Linked DNA regions of Homo sapiens: all the other regions are linked to region 5. Evidence: fine-mapped expression QTL. A gene starts in region 5. Each other region holds a variant in brackets. All regions are shown on one strand. Distances are from middle to middle. Region 1 overlaps KAZN (kazrin, periplakin interacting protein). Region 2 overlaps KAZN (kazrin, periplakin interacting protein). Region 3 overlaps KAZN (kazrin, periplakin interacting protein). Region 4 overlaps KAZN (kazrin, periplakin interacting protein). Region 5 holds the start of KAZN (kazrin, periplakin interacting protein).

Region 1 (4,118 bases), 280 kb after region 5:
GGATAGGTGGATGGATGGATGGACGTACAGATGGATGGGTGGAAGGACAAATGGATGGATGTACAGACGGATACATAGATGAATAGATGGGTGGATGGATGGGTGAATGGATATATGGATAAATGGATGGTTGGGTGGATGGATGGATGGATGGATAGATGGATGGATGGATGGATGGATGGATGGAAAGATGAGTAGAAGAACATATAGAAGGATACATGGATGGATGGATGGATGGATGGGTGGGTGGATAGATAGATGAATCGGTGGGTGGATGGATGGATGGGTGGATGGATGGATGGATGGAAGGATGGATGGATGGACAGATAGATGAATGGATGGGTGGATGGATGGATGGATGGAAGGATGGATGGATGGACAGATAGATGAATGGATGGGTGGATGGATTCATCCATTCATTCCTTCTGTCACCTGCTATGCACTAGGCATTATTCAAGTAGTTAGGGATAGAATAATAACACAGACAAAGCTCCTGCTTTCAGAAAGACTGTATTCTAAAGGGGAGAGTCAGATGTTCAAGAAGAAAACAAATAGCATAAAGAATTTCTAGTAGCAGTAAGCACTATGAAGGAAAATAAAGTGGGGAAGAGGGATGCAGAATAATGGGGCTGCTGTTTCACATAGGGTGGTCTCTTTGGTAAAGCAGCATTTGAGAAAGCCTTGAGGGAAGGGAGGAAGTGAGCTATGCAGAGATCTGAGGGAAAAGCAGAGAGAACAGAAGAAGGCTAGCATGGCTAAACCAGAGTGTGGGAGGAGAGGAAATGTAAAAGGAGAGGAGGTCAGAGGGAGCCAGGGGCCTTTCAGGCTTTTGGAAGACTTTGCTTTCCTCTCAGTGAAATGAGAAGCCAGTGGTGGGCTTTGAGAAGAGGAGGGATTGGATCTGACATATATTTATGTTGTGTTGAAAATAGACTCTAGGGAGGAAAGGCAGGTGCCGGAGACAAATAAGGAAGCTACTGCAATCATCTAGGCATGAGTTTGTGGTGGCTGGGACCAGGGAGAGAGCAGTGCAAAGTGGGGCAAAGTGGCGAGATTCAGTATCTAGTTCAAAGGTAGAGCCAGCAGAACTGACGTGGTGGATGTGGTGGGTAGGAGAAAAAGGAGAAGTCCAGAATGATTCCAGAGATGCACCCTTGAGTAACTGGAAGGAAAGCACTTGTCATTTCTTGAAATAGAGAAGACAGGGGCAGGAGCGAGTTTAGAGGGGGTGGGCCAGGAGGAAATCAGGAGCTCAGTTTGGAGTATGCTAGGTTAGAGATGTCTATTAATCATCTGAGAGTTGACTGTCCAAATTTCAAGGGAGAGGACAGGGCTGGTCATATCCATTTGGGAATCATCAGCATATACAGATGATATTTAAAGCCACGATACCAGACAAGTGAGTACAGATAGAGAATCCAAGGATTGAGCTCTGGAGTCCTCCAACATTTGGAGGTCGGAAGGGGGAAGAGGATCCAACAAAGGCTACTGAAAAGGAACAGCTGGTGAGGTAGGAAGAAACCAGTAGAGAAGTGACATGTGTCCGGAAGAGAGTGTTCAACTGTTAGATGCTGCTGACAGATTAAGTAAGAGGGGCTGGAAAGGTGACCACTGGATTTAATAATGTCATTGGTGACCTTGAGTTGTTTCAGAGGAATGGTGGCATGAATCGCTAGCTAGCTGGCTGA[CTGGA/C]TGGATGGATGGATGGATGGATGGATGGATGGATGGATGGATGGATGGACAGATGGATGGAAGGCTAACTTAACTACTGCAGCTAACTTAACTACTGCAGGTAACTGCACCATCTTGTCACCTGTGACAGCAATTAAGCAACTGTTGCCTGACACTCCGTGTGCCAGAACCAAAAGCTGTCAAAACCAATCTCCTTCTCCATTCACCCAACTTTTTGGATCCAGCCCAGAAATCCTGGTGTGACCTGTGTTTGCTATAAGATGAGAATCTTGACATCTTCTGGTTTGATTATCCTTCTCTGGATTACCCATAATGCTCTTGGTCGAATGTTTCCCCTTTTAAGGTTTGAGAAGGGAAAGGAAAGGAAGAAAATGAGAGGAAAAAAAACTAACTCTGGGATCCTAGACTTACTTGGTTTTGTATTTCCATTTGCCAAACTGATGCTTTGCCAAATCTCCCTTCCTTTCTGGAAGAGCAGATTTGCGCAGCCACCTACCTCTGCAAGTGGGGGTCCCTGGAGATTCCTCCATGTTAAAGCCAAATGAGGAAAGGTCTCAGATATATCTGTAAATTTGTGGCCAGGTGCGGTGGCTCACACCTGTAATCCCAGCACTTTGGGAGGCTGAGGCAAGCAGATCACCTGAGATTGGGAGTTCAAGACCAGCCTGACCAACATGGAGAAACCCCGTCTCTACTAAAAATACAAAATTATCCCGGCATGATGGTGCATGCCTGTAATCCCGGCTACTCAGGAGGCTGAGGCAGGAGAATCACTTGAACCCGGGAGGCAGAGGTTGCAGTGGGCCGAGATCATGCCATTGCACTCCATCCTGGGCAACAAGAGTGAAACTCTGTCTCAAAAAAAAAAAAAAAAAAAAAAAATTGTAAGACATTTTATGTAAATGTTATTTATCTTTTTATGGGTTTATTTGGTTGTTGTTATCATTTATTGGGTGAGCATGGAAGCTGAACTCTTGTCTTCCCTGCCTTGCATTGTCCTTAATTTATTAAAAAAAAAAAAAAAGAAAAAAGAAAAAAAAACTATTTTCAATGAAGCCATTTCTTCCTTCTCCTAATAGTGAAAATCACTGGATTCTTAGGAGGCATGAGGCACAGACCAGGCTTCCTACGCAGGATGTGCTGGGGTCTGCTCCAGGCTCCTGAGAGCCAATAGTTACATTTTCAGGAATGTTATAAGCCTCATACTGGTGGCTTAAAATTGATGATGAGAGTACGTACACCATGGAAACTGGCAATGACTACAAATCAGGGCTCCTTCGCCCAACCCTCCACAGTTGATTGTTAAACACTTGCCAGTACACCACTGCCTGTTGCCTTCACTATCAAGAAAGAGGTTTTCTGAGATCAATCTGAAGTGTGACCTCGGGAATTTCCTGCTTTCCTGGAAGGGGGTAGATTTCAGCCCAGGCATGACTGCCACATCAACAGAGATGCTCGGGAAGATGTGTTGCCCTGCAAACTTTCACAGTTGACACCCCCTGCTTCAAGCTCTGTGTGATGACAGTGAAGTGAGAGTGAGCCGCTCCTCTGAATGGAGAGATTAAAAGCAGTTGTTTGACTGAGGCAAGGAGGAAGAAGAAAGCCCAGACAAGCCAAGTGGGACTGTGATCTTAACAGATGTTAGGATCTTACCTCATTAGGGCACCTCAGAGGCTTGCCGCGGAGGTGAGAAACAATAGATGAGGTGATGGCTTTATGGAATTGTCAGTGTTATCAGTTCCCTGTCCTCAATCTGATCTGCACAATCACAGCCTCTGTTGTCACCTGTCCAATTTCCAATCTTGTGGTAGCTGCGTTTATTACATGCGCAAATGCAGCCAGCAGCCAGAATGACATTAGCGATAGTAGCTGCTGTGGGCTCATTATTATGCAAGCCAGGAAAGGAACTCTAGGCAGGTGATTAAACATGCCTTTGGCAACAGAGCAAAGAACAGATGCTTGGGAGGACACACCTTGAAATTGCAGGTAGGAACCTGGGTTTAGGACCATCACTCCTGTGCAGGTCTTTGCAGGGGAAGCAGACACAGCGTTGTGTAGTAGTTAAGTGGAGGGAGTGGGGTCTGGAGCTGGACTGCCTGGATTCAAGTCTCACTCTGCCCCTTACCAGCTCTGTGACCTTGAGTATGCTTCCCACCTTCTCTGTTTACATTAGTCTGCCCATCTCTAAAATAGGATAATGATGCTAATGATAGTACCAAAAATTGGTATGCTTTTGAGGATCCATGAGTAATCTACGTAAAACACTTAAAGTGATGCCTGTCACACAGAGCTAATAAATGTTAGCTGTTATTATTCTCCCTCCAGACCTTTTTGTAGATAGGCATGTCTAGATTTGGGGAAGTCTTGTCTTACCACTTAGAATACTGCAAAGTCATCTACTTTGACATGAACTAAAGAAAGTAAGA
Region 2 (4,118 bases), 280 kb after region 5:
AGCAAGATAACTCTTTGCCGGTGAATAGCCTCCAGTTAACATGGGGAAAACAATGAGGTAAGAAAACGAATGACAGTCCAGCATGCCTTGTGCTCCTGAGGCCTCTGTGAAGTGCTGTGGGCACAGGATCCATTCTTGGAGCATGCGGTAACTGAGCTCACAGCCAAATTGCTCTTTCCCAATATCCAGCAAAGCTGTGTTCCTGGAGTTACTCATGGCCAGTGCTCCACAGATTGTGCTCAGTCAGGTTAGGCTGAACACCCCTGAAAGTAAATTCTCGCATGATAAGCAGGGTGTTTCCAGTTGGACCAGAAAATCCAGCAGGGTGACAGGTCAGATAATGTCCCAGCAAACCACTTCCCAACCCTTGTCAAAACTGGTAGGTGCAGAAACAGGCAGTAACAAATGCCATTGGCATGTGAAATGCCAGCCTGGTGGGGTGAGGAAGAGAAGTGGAAATCATTTGAGGCTACTAAGGCACAAGAAGGACTAGAGGGCAGGAAATAAACTTTCTGTGACCCGTACCATTGGAACTGTCTGCCATCTTGCCGAATCTTCCATTTGTTCATGTATCTCTTCATCCGCAAGTGTTTATAGAATACTGATTATGTGCTAGGCACTGTCCTCAGCCCTGGGAATACAGTGGTGAGCCAAGCAGAGCTGGTCCCTGCCTCTAGGAACTTACAGTCTCATGTCTGAGATTATTTCAGGGCACCACATGGTGGGTTCAGGTACAGGTTCTGGTGTCAAATCACCTGGAATCAAGTTTCTGCTCGACCACTTCCCAGCCAGAAGACCTCATATGAACCATTTTGAATCGATTTGCTCCCTCTGAACTTGTTTCTGCATCCTTATACTGGGGATAAGATTACTATTTTCTGTGTATGGTTGTTTAAATGAGATTTGGATTCACAAATGTAGGTGCTGCTGGCTATGGTGGTGGCAGCTTTCTCTTCTCTTCTGAACTCACTGTAAGCTCCTCCGGGGAAAGGCCTGTTCTCTACTCCTCCTGTGTGTCTCTCAGGTCCACTCTAAGCTGCCTCTGAAGCTGGTACTCTGTAAATACCTGTTGAGTCCTTAGGGCTACTGAATTCTGATTCAGTAGCTCTGGCGTGGGACCTGGGATTCTGCCTTGCTAGCGAGTCCCAGGTAAGACCCATGCTGCTGGTCTGGGGATCACACTGTGAGTAGCCAGAGACTGGCTCATCCTCTCGCCTTGCCCTACAGTTTTTCATAACTGAACAGGAAGTGTTGTTATCTCATGCAAATTCAGGGTTGTTAGAGCGTGAGCTCAGCATGCACTCAGCTAAACTTCAGAGATTCCAAACAAACTTTTTTCCCTCCTAGAAGAAGCTGAAGTTTTGCTAGATATGCTTTAGCCAGGACTATTTTAAATGACTCAGCGGCAGTAACATTGAAGCTTCAGCCCTAAAGACTCTTCCATGTGTTAGCTTCTCACCTGGGGCAAGTTGTTTAATCTCTCTTGGCCTCGGTTTCCTTGTCTGTAGTAGGGGGACTGGTCCATTTGGGGGCTGTGAAATGATGCGTGGAAATCACCCTGCTCGAGGTCAGGCATATGGTTGGTTTTGATAAAGGAGGGCTTCTGTTATAGACCTGGTATTTCCCATCAGTCCAGATCTTCAGATGCTGGAGTGAAAGAATCAGTGCTAAGGGAAGTGCTGGCTCTGAGGAACCAAGGGAAGGTTAAAGCATCACTTACAGCTCCTCCCTTCTTCTCCCTGCACGTGGAGGGCTAGACGGAATGCTTGCAAAACTAAAAGCAATTATAGCACAGTTTTAAAAGTTCATTGGCATTTATGGAGCATCTAGAAACTTCCAGATGCTGTTCTAAGACCTTTCCATGGATTATTTCATTTAAGTCTCATAATAACCCCTGTAAAGTAGGGACTGACATCATCCTCCTTAGACAGATGAGGACACCAAGGTGTGGAAAG[G/C]TGAAGAGATTTGTCAAAGTTCATTTGAGGAATAAATAGGGAGCTAGAAGTCAAATTCAGACATCTCTCTCCAGAGCTGCTCCTTAACCACTCATGGGTAACTCAAAAAGTGGTTCTTGGCCGGGCACGGTGGCTCATACCTGTAATCCCAGCACTTTGGGAGGCTGAGGTGGGTGGATCACCTGAGGTCGGGAGTTCGAGACCAGCCTGACCAACATGGAGAAACCCCATCTCTACTAAAAATACAAAATTAGCTGGGCGTGATGGCACATGCCTGTAATCCCAGTTACTCAGGAGGCTGAGGCAGGAGAATCACTTGAACCCAGGAGGCGGAGGTTGCGGTGAGCCAAGATCACTCCATTGCCCTCCAGCCTGGGCAAGAAAAGCGAAACTCCATCTCAAAAGAAAGAAAGAAAGAAAGAAAGAGAGAGAGAGAGAGAGAGAGAGAAAGAAAGAAAGAAAAGAAAGAAAGAAAGAAAGAAAGAAAGAAAGAAAGAAAGAAAGAAAGAAAGAAAGAAAGAAAGAAAGAAAAGCGGTTCTTGAGCTCTTCTGTTGCAGGGTGCAGGCTTTCTTAGGACTGGATGGAAGTGGTGGCCTCTGTCCCACCTTTTTCAAAGGTGAGACCCTGGGTCACAGCCAAAGGGAGCATTATCTTCACACGCTCCTCCCATCCTCCATCATCCCTCACCTCCCGCCTACCCAATCAAATCAAGCAGAACTTATTAGAATAATGTACCTGCACACAATATTGGATCTAATTTCAAGAGATTCAAGGGCTCTCCCTCCCTATCAAAGCCAGCCCATCCCCATCACATGGACACAGGCAAGACCTTCCAGGCAAGAATCAGACAGGGGGCCTACCTTTGCCTTAACCCTGAACTATAATCTGAAACTTGCATGCCACTTATTTGAATGTTACCTACTTGGGAATCTCTTGTTTTCTTTAAATCATCAAACACCCCTTACGGTTTGGGATAGGAAGCTCTATTGTATCCTTTAGGTCTCCCAGCCTCAGTCTGTTTTACAGAAGAGAGAGGCAGGCAAGAAAGAATAGGGTACAGGAATGGGGTCCTTATATCTGTATGTGTCTTCTTAGGTGCCCACAAAATCCCAGTAAGGGAGACAATATTTTCCCCATTTCACAGATGAAGAAACTGAGGCTGAGAGAAACTACATCACTCATCTAGGGTCTCACAGCCTATAAATAAGAAGTTCAGGCCGGGCGCGGGGGCTCACACCTGTAATCCCAGCACTTTGGGAGGCCGAGGCGGGTGGGTCACGAGGCCGGGTGATCGAGACCATCCTGGCCAACATGGTGGAACCCCGTCTCTACTAAAAATACAAAAATTAGCTGGGTGTGGTGGCGGGCACCTGTAGTCCCAGCTACTCGGGAGGCTGAGGCAGGAGAATCGCTTGAACCCGGGAGGCAGAGGTTGCAGTGAACCCAGATCACACCACTGCACTCCAGCCTGGCAACAGAGCGAGACTCCATCTCAAGAAAAAAGAAGTTCAAAGGACATTGACACCAAAAACATCATTTTCTACCGTGCCACTGAATTAAAGAATAAAATCAGTGTTTAAGACTATGCATATAACAGAAGCATAGGTTGTGTGGCTTTGGTGTGAATATATGTACTCTTAAGTTCTCCATATTAAGGACGTTCATTGCTAGAGTCTTAGAAGTCCAGGGCTGGGTGCATTTTCGAAGGTCGTTTAGAGCAGAGCTTCTCAAACTTCATGTGCATGGAAATCACATGAGGAGCTTGTTAATTTTAATGCAAATCAATTCTGATTCAGTAGCTCTGACGTGGGATCTGGGATTCTGCCTTGCTAGCAAGTCCCAGGTAAGACCCATGCTGCTGGTCTGGGGATCACACTGTGAATAGCCAGAGGCTGGCCCATCCTCTCGCCTTCCCCCACACAGTTTTTCATAACTGAGCAGGAAGTGTTGTTATCTCAGAGCCATCAAAGAAGAAATACATTTCTCAGCGACAGCGATGGCGGAGGAAGAGGCCTGCCAACAGGCGGGGAGCAGAGGGGACCTTAGACCCTGGCAGAGATCGAGCATCACGGAACACGTATCGTAATGCTGTGCTCACCGAGGGAGTCCACCAGGGAAAGGAGGACACTATTGTTCACGGGAAAATGCCTGGGAGGGAGCTA
Region 3 (4,118 bases), 290 kb after region 5:
GAGAAATAGCAATCTACCACAATGGGCTTGGAGTTTATAATTATTAACAAATAAGAGAACAAAAAGACCTAGGAATTATAAATATATACTAATATAGTCACCTAATGGAAAGTATAAAGCAGTAAAATGGATGCACTATAGCCATATAAAGCATGGGTGCATCTTGGAAATATAATATTGAGTGAAACTCCTTGTACCCAAATCCTTGTCTCAGGCTCTGCTTTGCAGGGGGAGCACAAACTGAGGCAGCTTCTGTGTCTGGTGCTTGTCCAGAGTGTACTTAGCACTCACTGTCTCCTAGGACAGAATTCCCCCTTGGGGTACAGCTCTAATTCTGGAAAAGTCTGCCCCTGCCTACCCTTCCTTCCTTAATTCCTGTCCAGCTTTCTCTTGGCAAACTACAGCCCACAGGCCAAATCCAGCCCACCAACCAAGAATGTTTGTACACTTTTAAATGGTTGAAAAAAATCAGAAGAATGTTTCACGATGTGAAATTTATACAAAATTCAAACTGCAGTGTCCATAAATAAAATGTTACTGGATCACAGCCTTGCCCATGTATTTATGAGCAGTTGGGACAGAGACCATTGAAAATATTTACTTCCTGGCCCTTTGCAGAAAAAGCCTGTCTTACATGACAAAATATGGCAACTAGCAGACTGTGTCGGGTAGTATCATCAGTGAAAAGAAGTACCTCGTACGCTCGAGCCAAACATCAGCCTCTTGAAGAGTTACAATGGGCTTTTTATGTCGTCAACCTGCAGAACACAGGAAGAGTTAGGGAGAAGCCTAGACCCAGGTCAGAATGCAGTTGGAGATGATTCGGGAAGCTTACCACAGGGACCCTGAGGGGGCTTCCCAGAACTTGCTGAACAGTCGCCTTTCCCTTCCCTGCTCTGCGAGTTTGGGTTTTGGGTAAGCAAGTCAAGCCTGGTCAGCTGGAATGCTCTGGCTGGTCAAGGCAATTGAAATTTCTCTTTAATGGAAGATTGAACAAAAAGCTCTTTCTGGATTGCCCCTGGGGAGAGGTTTCTCAGCTGTGTGCAAAGCCCATTTTCCTGATGGGAAATCTCTCCACTGCCCGAGAATGGCACGCAGACCCAGAATCTCCCGGGCACCAGTCCCCACCAGTGGGACATCGTCCCGCTGCAAAAAGTATAGGACAAAGAAACTGAATCTGTCAAACCTGTGACATCCCCTAAAAGCTGAACATTTTTAAAATTCCTGATAGCAAATTTAAATCTTTTTTTTTTCCTTTCTGCCCGCCTTTTAAAAAGATAGAGAAGGTTATTTTTAAAGGCAGGCCATAGATCAGGATTCTGAATGACGGGCGTGAATCAGAGTCCTCTTGTGGGCTTTCTCAGTATACAGACTTCCGGGCCCCACGGCGGATCCACTGATGAATCTCAGAATGGGACCCAAAGATCTGTATTTTTTTTTAATCTAGAGCTGGGGTCTTGCCGTGTTGCCCAGGCAGGTCTCAAACTCCTACGCTCAAGTAATCCTCCCACCTTAGCCTCCCAAAGTGCTGGGATTACAGGTATGAGCCACTGTGCCCAGCCAGGAATCTGGACTTTTTTTTTTTTTTTTTTTTTTTGAAGCAGTCTCGCTCTGTCGCCCAGGCTGGAGTGCAGTAGCCGGATCTCAGCTCACTGCAAGCTCTGCCTCCCGGGTTCACGCCATTCTCCTGCCTCAGCCTCCAGAGTAGCTGGGACTACAGGCACCCGTCACCACGCCCGGCTAACTTTTTTGTATTTTTAGTAGAGATGGAGTTTCACCGTGTTAGCCAGGATGGTCTCGATCTCCTGACCTCGTGATCCACCCGCCTCGGCCTCCCAAAGTGCTGGGATTACAGGTGTGAGCCACCGCGCCTGGCAGGAATCTGTATTTCTAAAAATTTATTGTTTCCATAGGTTTTTGGGGAACGGG[C/T]GGTGTCTGGTTACATGAGTACGTTCTTTAGTGGTGATTTGTGAGATTTTGGTGCACCCATCACCATAGCAGTATACGCTGAACCCAATTTGTAGTCTTTTATCCCTCACCCCCTTCCCACCCTTTACCCTGAGTCCCCAGAGTCCATTGTATCATTCTTATGCCTTTGCGTCCTCATAGCTTAGCTCCCACTTATGAGTGAGAACATACAATGTTTGGGTTTCCATTCCTGAGTTACTTCACTTAGAATAATAGTCTCCAATCCCATCCAGGTTGCTGCGAATGCCATTAACTTTCCTTTTTATGGCTGAGTAGTAAGGAATCTGTATTTTAACAAGCTTCCCAGCACTTCCCATGTGTGTGCTGGGCTAAAGCAGTTAAAGACCACTGCTTTAACACTGTATTTATTTACATGGGAAAATGTCCATGGAATACCGTTGAATTGTTTTTTCTAAAAGCAAGTTAGCCTGTGTCATGCTGATTTCTGGAAAATTCTATGTCATTATGTTTCTTTAGGAGAGAAGAAAAGCCAAAAAAGTATTAACGGGGGTAGTGGGATTTTACAGGTGATTTATACTTTTTTTTTCTTTGTACTTTCTCCAACTTGTTTGAATTTTATGCAATGAATAGCTATTTCTTCTAAAATGAAAAAGAAATCTCTGAAGTTATTTCCATGGTTGGGGGTGGGATGGGGCAGTAAGACGTGTCCATGAGCCTCCGTTAGTCGGCTCTGATTATGTGAGGCTTCTTGGTGTCAGGGAGTCTTACATCTGGCCCTGCCTGTTGCTATGACCCAGAAGCTACTGGAAGGTGTCAGGAAAGTTCAACATGCCCCCGTCCCTACCTCCTGCCTCTGGCCTCTGGTGTGGTGCAGACCCCTGAAGTAAATGCCTCCTCAAGGCAGCAGGCAGAGCCCAGATGGGATGGTGACCCTGCCGTCATCTGTGCTCCCATTCCTGGCCCAAATGGAGTCTCAAGGTCTCTAGGGAGCCCAGCCCAGCACCTGCCACAAACACTAAATTCTCTCAGAACTCCAGGAAGAAAACACTCCTGGCAGAAGAGAGTTCAGTCCCTGCCCCGGGGCTCGCCTCCAGCCATCTCTGATGACCCAGGTCCCAAGATGCCCTCCTGTGCCTTCATTATGGGAAGAGAGGCATCTGTCTTTCAGAGGCATCTCTCTCTCTTTTTCCCTCTCTCTCTCCTTTTTCCCCCTCCCCCCTGCTGTCTCTCTTTCTCTCTGTATCCTACAATCCCTGGATCATCTGAAGGCCTGTAATCTCAGGCTTGTTTCCCCCCAGACACCACCATGGAGCTTCTCCCTCCCCTGACAGCCCATGGGAGCCCACCCCACAGGTTTTTCTACAAGGTCTGCAAAGGACAGAGTGGAAGGGAAAGTGCTAGAAGGTTGCAGAGACACCCCAGAAGGTGTCTCCAGAGCAAGCTTTCGAATGACCTCTGTCTGCATCACTGCCCACCACCCCTGCCCATGGCTCAGGGTTCATAGGGGTGTGTGTTCATGTCCTCAGACTTGGGCAGGTGAGCCCAGGACACTTGTGCCACGGGGCTGTGGGGGCCTCCTGCAGGCTCCGGTGGCCTGGGCCCAGGCAAACCAGCCCACTCATCTTGTATCTCCAATACCTACACACACACACACAAAAGCTTCCAGAAGAAAGGAAAAAAGGAATGGACAGAGGAAGGACCAGTCTCCTAAGATTATTCCTCATTCATGCAGTCCTCCACAAATATTTACAAGCACCTACTACGTAGCAGGCACAATTCTAGGTGCTAGGATAGAGTGAACAGAATTAGACTGATTAGACTGGTCCCTACTGTCATAAGGCTGATGATCTACAGGAGGAAGTCAAATAATCATTTTTAAAAGGAAAATAGAGGCCAGTGTGGTGGCTCATGCCTGTAATCCCAGCACTTTGGGAGGCCGAGGCAGGTGGATCATGAGGTCAGGAGTTCGAGACCAACCAGACCAACATGGTGAAACCCTGTCTCTACTAAAAATGCGAAATGTAGCTGGGCGTGGTGGCTCGTGCCTGTAATCCCAGCCACTTGGGAGGCTGAGGCAGAAGAATCTCTGGAGCCCAGGAGGCAGAGGTTTCAGTGAGCAGAGATCGCACCATTGCACTCCAGCCTGGGCAACAGAGCGAGACTTTGTTTCAAAAAAAAAGAAAAAGAAA
Region 4 (4,118 bases), 270 kb after region 5:
TCCTACAATTGCTAGACCCAAATGAATCCAAAGGTCCTTCCAGCCCTTCCAAGACCTTGGGCCTCACTCCATGAGCATCCGGACACCTAATCTGAGGCCCCAGGCATGGAATCTGTGCTGGCCTGAGCTGTGGGGAGACCCTGGTCTATGGACACCTCTTGAGATCAGTGGAGATACACAATAATGGAGAATGCTGTTATTGTCATGGCATAAATTTGGATTGGAGAAGACAGAAAAGAAGCAGGATGCTAAGTGAGGCTGGCCACGCCCCTGCCTCCCTGATGGACTGCTGACCTTGCAATGCCCTTCTCTTGAATCCCAAGTTCGGGCTCGTTTTTTCCAGGCCTCCTCTGCTACAATGCTTGGCCAAGGCCCAGCCAGGGCCCTCCCTGTGCAGGGGAGCAGCCACGTTCAGGGCCCTGTGATCAATGGAGCGTGGAGGCCTCTCGGAGTCCTTTGCTCCCCTCTCCCTCCTCTTTTGCCTTGAAGGTCTGTTGTTTTGTGAGATCTGCGAGAGTGGGGAGAGTGGGGAGATTTATTTTGCACTGAGGCTGTGAGTGGGCTGAGAGAGAAGCAGAGGACAAAAACTGCACTAGACTTAGACCAGGCACCAAAATAGAAAGCCCAAGACCATTGTATTCCCCCGGGACCTGACTCTGGCCATGGTGCTGATGATAGAGTTACCGTTGGGTTCAGGGATGGTGCATCCTCCAGCTGGGCTCCAGGTAAGACAGGCTTTTTGACTTCTCTGTGCCTGTTTCCAGCTCTGTGAAGTAGGAAAACTACTAGCTTCCATCTCGCAAGGACGCCGAGAGGATGAAATGACAGAGCACGTAGTTGTCCGTAGACTGATGTCAGGTGCTGCTGTTTGTGTTATTAATGACAACAGCAGTCATCCTATTCAGGTGCTTTTGCTAGGACTGTGACTTCTGTCTCTGCTTTACTCGGTGTCTTTGAAGACACCCCCCCCCCCACCCTGGGCATGGAGGCATTGGGGCAAAGGGCAGCAGGCAGGTCAGCTGGCATGGCCCCTCGTCTGGGGCTTGTCCCTGGCTATGTCCTCAGCTTTCCTGGGCTGAGCCAGTGATGTATATAAGGCTGTGGACTGCACTTGGATAGGTGGAGAGGAGACAGACATGACCTGGCTACAGGGAGGACAGCAGTGGGCAGGCACAGCCTCACATAAGCACAGCATTGCATAGGCAGGCATCGCATATGCAGGCATTGGATACACAGGCATCACAAACGTGGGCATCACACAGGCATGGCATCGCATAGCATGGCATCACATACGCACAGCATTGCATACACAGGCATCACATACGCACGGTATCACATACACAGGCATTGCATACACGGGCATCACATAGCACGGCATCACATACGCAGCCATCGCATAGGCGGGCATCGCATAGGCAGGCATCAAATAGCACGCATCACATACGCAGGCATCGCATACGCAGGCATTGCAAACACATGGCATCACATACGCACAGCCAGGGCTGCGTCTGAGGCCACTGGAGGGGAACTGTTCTTAGACCCAATGGCTGTCTTTACTACTAATTGCTATTGCATCTATTGGGCAATTAGAGGGTACCAGGCTGTGGGCTTTCTAACACTTTCCTGGGATGGGAGCCATTTTATAGATGGGGAAACTGAGGCTCAGAGTTGGAGCAACTCATCTAGGGCCACACGTTACAAGACCTGGGATTTGAAACCAAGATTAGTGACTCCAGAGGCTGAAATCTTAACCACTTCCCCGTGGGCCCTTCTTGAAGTGAATGTCTAACCATTACCACTTTTCCACTGGGTGAACTGGAGTCTTGTAGACCCAGAACATCTGGGCAGACTTTGAGTTTGGGGAGGGGAATCTAGTAGGCTCCTCTGCAGCTGTCTTCATCTCTGCATGTCCTTCCAGAAATGGGGCCAAGAGGAGCCAGGCATGGTGGCGTGTGCCTGTAGTCCCAGCTACTAGGGAGGCTGGGGTGGGGGGATCTCTTGAGCCCAGGAACTCAAGGCTGCAGTGAGCTATGATCATGCCACTGCACTCCAGCCTGCACAACAGAATGAGACCCCAACTCTAAAAAACTTAATAGCTAAGTAAAAATAATAATAAATAATCCGAAATGGGGCCAAGATAAGAGAACTGAATC[G/A]GGGTTGGCGGGGGGGTGCATCTGTTCTACTCGGTGATTTTTCCCTTGTTGATCTGTGTCCCCCACTCCAGCTTGGGGGCCCCGGTGGTATTGTGGGTACCCACAAAATGCTAGTCAGGATGCCAGATTCCCCTTCTCTAGTTCCTGCTAGCACCTTGGGATGTGTCCTAGTGAGAACCGCAGACTTGCCAAAGCCATGACAGCTGGATCCTATTCTAGCCGCAGGTTGGGATCGAAGTTTAGTATTCCAGCTTCCACCATCCCCTTCCTGCCTGTCTTGACCCTTCCAGTTTGCTCCTTTAAATCTCCACTTCCCTTTTGCACAGTCTCAAGCTCTTCCAGGTTCTGAGGATTTTTTCTCACTTCTCAGGGTGAGCTCGCGACCTTTCATTGCCTTCCCTGTGTGAGCACAATTCAGGGGTCAGACTCTGGACTCTTTATGGAGCCTCAACGCAGGGGCTGTGACTGTATATTCTGCACAGCGAGGCTCTAATTACAGGCTGCATGCTGGAGACTAGTCATTTTGTGAGTCATTAGGATGTGTGGCTGGGGCTTTATAATATCTTTTGATGAGTTCTGTAATTTTTATATCTTCACCTATGCTAGCATTTTCAGTGAAGCAGAACAGGACAGTAGGGCTGGCAGATGTCACAGCCCCTGGGCTCTTTCTGGATCGGAATTGAAAGGGTCTTCTCCTCTGCACTCTGAGGAGAGAAATATTGATTCTGATTGGGTTCGAGGGGTTGAAAGCTGGCATGTGCCTCGTCTCTTGCTAATCAATATTCCAAAGCAGTGGTTGTGGGTAATGTTTGAGTACTTGCTTCTGTTCTCCTTCGTGTTGGCAAATTACAAGCTTTCAGGTGAGACTCCCTTCATTTTGCAGTGGCTGCGAGGAGCAGGTTTAATTAGCGCACAGACCTGCTGGAAAAATCCAGTGTTATTAAAAGCCTTGTTCCATGTGGTGGCTGCTGGGTTGTACCGGTCTCCTGCCCTCAGCCCCTTCCTTCCTGAAGCCACCCAACACCCACCCCGGCATTACTTTGCCATTAATCCCAAGGTATCCGGGGAAAAATGACAGAGAGGTAAGAAAAATCACATGGAAGGTAGAATGTCCAGATTTTTCCCCAATGAGATGAAAAACTCAGGGTCTCATCTCTGTGGAAAATCCCAGTATCTGTCCAGGAGCACTGGGCCTGGCCTTGACCTTGGCTTTGACCTTCAGACGACTGCTGGGGAGATTCCTTGAACATGGAGTCTAGGGCCTGGATACTGGGAAAAATCAGACCCTTCTACTCAAAACCAAAAGACCACAGGCTTTGGAGTTAAGACAGGGTGAAGGGTGAGTCCCAGCTCTGCTCCTCACTTGCTGTGTGACTTTGAACAAATGGCTTAACTTCTCTGGCCCTGTTTCCTCAACTGTTTTTTGTTTTTTGTGTGTTTGTATTGAGACAGAGTTTTGCTCTGTCGCCCAGGCTGGAGTGCAATGGCACAATCTTGGCTCATTGCAACCTCCACCTCCTGGGTACGAGTGATTCTCCCACCTCAGCCTCCAAGTAGCTGGGATTACAGGCATGCACTACCACACTGGCTAATTTTTGTATTTTTAGTAGAGACGCGGTTTCTCCATGTTGGCCAGGCTACTCTCAAACTCCTGACCTCAAGTGATCTGCCCACCTTGGCTTCCCAAAGTGCTGGGATTACAGGTGTGAGCCCCCAGGCCCGGTTTTCCTCATCTGTTAAATGGGGTTCACGACCGTGACTCCCTCATGAGCTGCTGTGATGCTTCATGAGATGAGGAGCTTCACATCTGGCACAATTAATGGCCCATGGTCAGCTCTCAATCGGGGGCATTTGTTGTGAAGGTTGTGTGGCACTATGTGTCACTGTGGCCACACTGTTCTCATTATTACATATATGAATCTTACTCCACAACCAAGTGTGCAAGAAATCTCACCAGGCCCAACC
Region 5 (4,118 bases):
AAGTTCCCAGTGAAGTGGGAGAGAGACATATAAACAGATAAATTACTGTTTCTTCTGCTGAGTGCTATACCAGAGGTGTGAGTGCACGCACACGTGTGCGCACACACACACACACACACACACACACACGGCCCTCTAAATAGAGCTACTCTTAACTGTTTGCTCAGAAGCCCTAGTTCCAAAACATTCCCATCCTCTCTATTTGTGTATTTGCATATATGACTTTTTGATTGAGGTAAAATTTACATAACATGAAATTAAGCCCTTTAAAGTGAACAATTCAATGGCACTTAGTACATTCACCGTGTTGTGCCACCACCACCTCTGTCTAGTTCTAAAACATTTTCATCAGTCAGCACAAAGTAACACCCGGCACCTATTAAGCAGTTACTTCTCATTCTTCCCTCCCCACAGCCCCTGACAAACACCAATCTGCTTCCTGTTTCATGGATTTATTTATTCTGGATATTTCATATAAATTGAATCGTATAATATGTGACCTTCTATGTCGGGCTTCTTTCAACTAACATAATGTTTTGGAGCTTCATCCACGTAGTAGTAGCATGTATCAGTACTCTTCACGGCTGAGTAATATTCCATTGCATACTGCAATTTGTTCATCCAATCATCTGTTGATGGACATTTGGGTTATTTCTGCCTTCTGGCTACTAATGAACAGTGCTGCTATGAACATTCATGTACAAATTTTTGTTTGGATATTTGTTTTGGACATATACCTAGGAGTGGATTTGCTGGGTCGTATGGTAATCCTATGTTTAACTGTTCAAGGAACTGCTAATATGTTTTCCACAATGGCTGCACCACGGCATCCCCCTTTTCAAGACCCACACAGCTCTGTAGTTTTGATGCTCTCCCCATAACGTAACTGAAAGACTGCAAAGAACTGAATCCTGGTTTGCAGATACACTAAGCAGTTCTAAGTGCCTTGGTTGGTCCAGTTGGTAAGAACTTGTGTTAATGAGGTTAAGGTCAGGGTTCGATCCCCGAACTGACCCATTAGCTGAGCAGAGCGGACAGAGTGAAGAATTGTGTCTTCCTGCCACATGCTCCACCATCAAATCCTGCCCTCTTGCAAAAGCTTGTTAGTGGTCACAGGGGAATGGAGCAAGACTGTTTTTATGGTTCCACAGAAAAGGGGGGAGAAATCTATCATCCAAGGCCTCCTGAAGGCGCAGCAGGAGGAACTTGCAATCAGATGATTACTTTCTTCCAGTCCCGCTGTCACCTGGTTTCTGCGGGCCCCTTAAGTAAATTGCTTAACCCTATGCAGAGCCTCAGTTTCCTTATCCCTAAAATGGGAATAATAATCCTCACTCACAAGAGATAAGAATGCATATAAAAGCACTCTACACGCAGTTTTTGCTTGGTTCTTATGGGCTTCCTGTAAGAACCTGAAGGGTGGGCAGCCTCATTTTTCCTCGCAGCACCCCACTGGCTTCTGCAATCTGCTCTTTGCTGCTCTCCGGAGGTTGACTGAGCTGGAATGATGGCGCCCTGTTGACCAGAGGGTTGCTGGCTGTTTTAAATTGTCCTATTTGCATGGAATGAAGTTTGCTATGGTAACAAGGTCTGGTGGCTGGAATCCAGGGCCCCAGTGAAAAATGCAAAGCCTGTGGTCTGGGAGAGAAAGAGGAGCTGGAGAGGGCATATCAACGTCAGGTTACCTCAGTTCTTCTGTGAAGAGGGGATGGGTAAACTGAGGCAGCAGGGCTCAACTCTTCTGCTCCCAGTAGAAGAAAGGGAAGAAGCCCCATCGACGCCTTCCTTCTTATCTCTCAACCTCATCTCTGTCCCCGCCAATATTCAGCCCGGCTAAGAAGCTTAGGAGCTGGCTAAGGCTGCTCCTCCACCTGGATGCACACACAGGGCTAGGGCTGTGGAGAGGCGGGAGCACCAGCGGCCCACGCCGAGGAAGATAGGCGCTCCCTCCTGGGGTGGGCAGCGCAGGTCTGGCCTGCGGGTGGGGGGTGGAGAGTGAGAGGCACGCGGGGCACCAGCTCAGCTCCCCTCTGGGGATTTCGTACTCGCAGTTTAAGGAACCGGTGGAGCACGAACTCCACTCCTGAGCTGGCGCAAGCGTCTCCCTTCCATGGAGATCCACCCCGGCTCCCCTCTGAGGCCCCCTTTCCAAGCACCCTCTCTTCCGAGCACCCAGCACCTCCCCAACCTTAGCACGGCTCGGGGCACCAGTTCTCCAGGGCGGGGGCTGCCCCACCGCTCAAGGGAGGGGACAGAGGGCCGGCCTCGGTCCAGGCGACCCCTGCCCCTCGCCAGGGGCGCCACCTTGGCCCCCTCCCGACTGCCGTCCGCCGCCTCCGCCCCCCCGGGGGGTGTGTCTCCGAAGTACGGGGGCGCGGGAGGCCAAGGGTGCCCCCAGCCTCCGACCGAGACCCCCTCCCGAGCCGGCGGCGAATGGTAGGCTCCATTTAAAGAGTGCCTGGTGGCGCGCGGTGTCCTTCTTGGAGCAGCTCTCGGCGCCCGCCCGCCGGGGTCTCGGCGATCGCTGCTCCTCCTCCTCCTTCTCCTCCTCTTTTTTCTCCTCCGCCTCCTCCCCCCGCCGCCTCGCCACCGCCGCGGCTAGGGCTGGAGGCGCCGCTGTCATTCCTGTGCCGGAGGAACCGGCGCTGCCGGTGCCTGGGGGTCGGGGCGCGGGCGAAGCCGGGCCGCGGAGGACACAACAGGTAGAGCCGGGGGTGCCCGGCCGCGCGCCCCCCGCGCATCATGCAGCTCTTTGTCACCTCTCTCGCCCCCAGGCCAAAATCCTGAGCATGATGGAAGACAATAAGCAGCTCGCGCTCCGCATCGATGGGGCGGTCCAGTCGGCCAGCCAGGAGGTGACCAACCTGCGAGCCGAACTCACGGCCACCAACCGGAGACTGGCGGAACTGAGCGGCGGCGGCGGCCCCGGCCCGGGCCCGGGAGCCGCGGCCAGCGCCTCGGCGGCGGGGGACTCGGCGGCGACGAACATGGAGAACCCCCAGCTTGGAGCGCAAGGTAGGATCGCCCCGGCGCCCAGGGCGGAGGAAGGCGAGCAGAGCACGCCCGGCCTCGGAGGTGGCCGGGGACCCGGGGTCCCCCACACCCGGGGCGAAATCGCTTTGCATTCTGGCTTGTAACCCTTTCCGCCCGGCGGTGGCCACCGCTGCTCTCCGGCTGGGAGTTGCAGGCTGCTGTCATTCACGAAAACCCGAGCGCAGTGTGCACGGGGTCACACGGTCACACCGGCCCCGGCCAGCCTGAGCGAGGCGCAGCCGGCGGGTCCCTTCCGGCATCAGAAAGTGCCCTTTCCGTGGCACCAGCCCCCTAGCTCCGTGCAAACTTTTCATGCCGGGGCCTTTTCCCCACCCCCCGCAGGGGTGAATGGCACAGTTCCCCCCACTTCCTTAGGCTCCTTCCCAGAGAGAGCTCCGGGCTCTGCCGCCGTGGTTGGGATAGAGGATTGCACTGCTGTGCACTTTTCTCCGCGGATGCCAAATCCCTTGGCTCAGTTGCATCTGGACTTTATTTTCTTCTCATTTGAGGTCTCTCAGGCATTGGAATCTATAGATGCAACAGTAGATGCTCAGCTCAGCAGGGAGTTTAAATTTCCGCAAATATAAACACCGAGAGCACTTTCCAGGGGGATACTGTAGACCTCAAAGGTTGAGCGGTAGAGAAATGAAGGCTTAGGGTGGTGGGCTGCAGGGAGCCCGTTTGAAGGGACTCTGCGGTTTAGAGAAGAGGAAGAAAAAGACAGTTGGTTTGTGTTCACATTGACAGAGATTAAGCTCTGAAACCCCCTGCAAGACATAAAGGCGGATGGGGCATTCCCTAAAATGTACTGTTTGGTTTCTGTGACTTAGAAAGTAAAAGGGTAAGCAGGCTTTGGGGGATTTTTTTTTTCTTTTTGCCTAATTGCCCTTTAAGAAACAGTATCACTGGTTATTAATATCATTTGAATTGCAAATTAAACTGCTGAAATCCAGAACAGGACAGAAACAAATCTCCAGTCCATGAGGTCCACTTGTCTAAATATGTCACTTGAAGTGCAAGGTACCAATTGCTCAGTGGCTCAAAATGATTTTCTGGTTCTGTTGTCATTTCAAGAGCTTCTCTTG

What was found.
Region 1: its variant is fine-mapped to the expression of KAZN in whole blood (INTERVAL, PIP above 0.99).
Region 2: its variant is fine-mapped to the expression of KAZN in whole blood (INTERVAL, PIP above 0.99).
Region 3: its variant is fine-mapped to the expression of KAZN in whole blood (TOPMed, PIP above 0.99).
Region 4: its variant is fine-mapped to the expression of KAZN in whole blood (TOPMed, PIP above 0.99).

The regions. Positions count from the first base shown.
Region 1 is chr1:14,872,782-14,876,899 of GRCh38, forward strand. The region is part of intron 1 of KAZN (kazrin, periplakin interacting protein); the gene reads left to right. Among named protein-coding and RNA genes, the nearest start is that of KAZN, 280 kb to the left of the region's middle. The variant CTGGA/C (reference allele first, on the strand shown) is at 1,689.
Region 2 is chr1:14,880,941-14,885,058 of GRCh38, forward strand. The region is part of intron 1 of KAZN (kazrin, periplakin interacting protein); the gene reads left to right. Among named protein-coding and RNA genes, the nearest start is that of TMEM51-AS1, 270 kb to the right of the region's middle. RefSeq lists enhancers at 938-987, 998-1,057. The variant G/C (reference allele first, on the strand shown) is at 1,956.
Region 3 is chr1:14,889,267-14,893,384 of GRCh38, forward strand. All of the region lies in intron 1 of KAZN (kazrin, periplakin interacting protein), which reads left to right. It overlaps LOC107985469 (a long non-coding RNA gene), which reads right to left. Exons shown (of 3, transcript XR_001737616.2): 2 at 695-758. Among named protein-coding and RNA genes, the nearest start is that of TMEM51-AS1, 260 kb to the right of the region's middle. The variant C/T (reference allele first, on the strand shown) is at 1,930.
Region 4 is chr1:14,866,763-14,870,880 of GRCh38, forward strand. All of the region lies in intron 1 of KAZN (kazrin, periplakin interacting protein), which reads left to right. Among named protein-coding and RNA genes, the nearest start is that of KAZN, 270 kb to the left of the region's middle. RefSeq lists an enhancer at 1,343-1,843. The variant G/A (reference allele first, on the strand shown) is at 2,154.
Region 5 is chr1:14,596,209-14,600,326 of GRCh38, forward strand. KAZN (kazrin, periplakin interacting protein) reads left to right here and starts at 2,477. Exons shown (of 15, transcript NM_201628.3): 1 at 2,477-3,015. The coding sequence starts at 2,790. RefSeq lists a silencer at 3,144-3,303.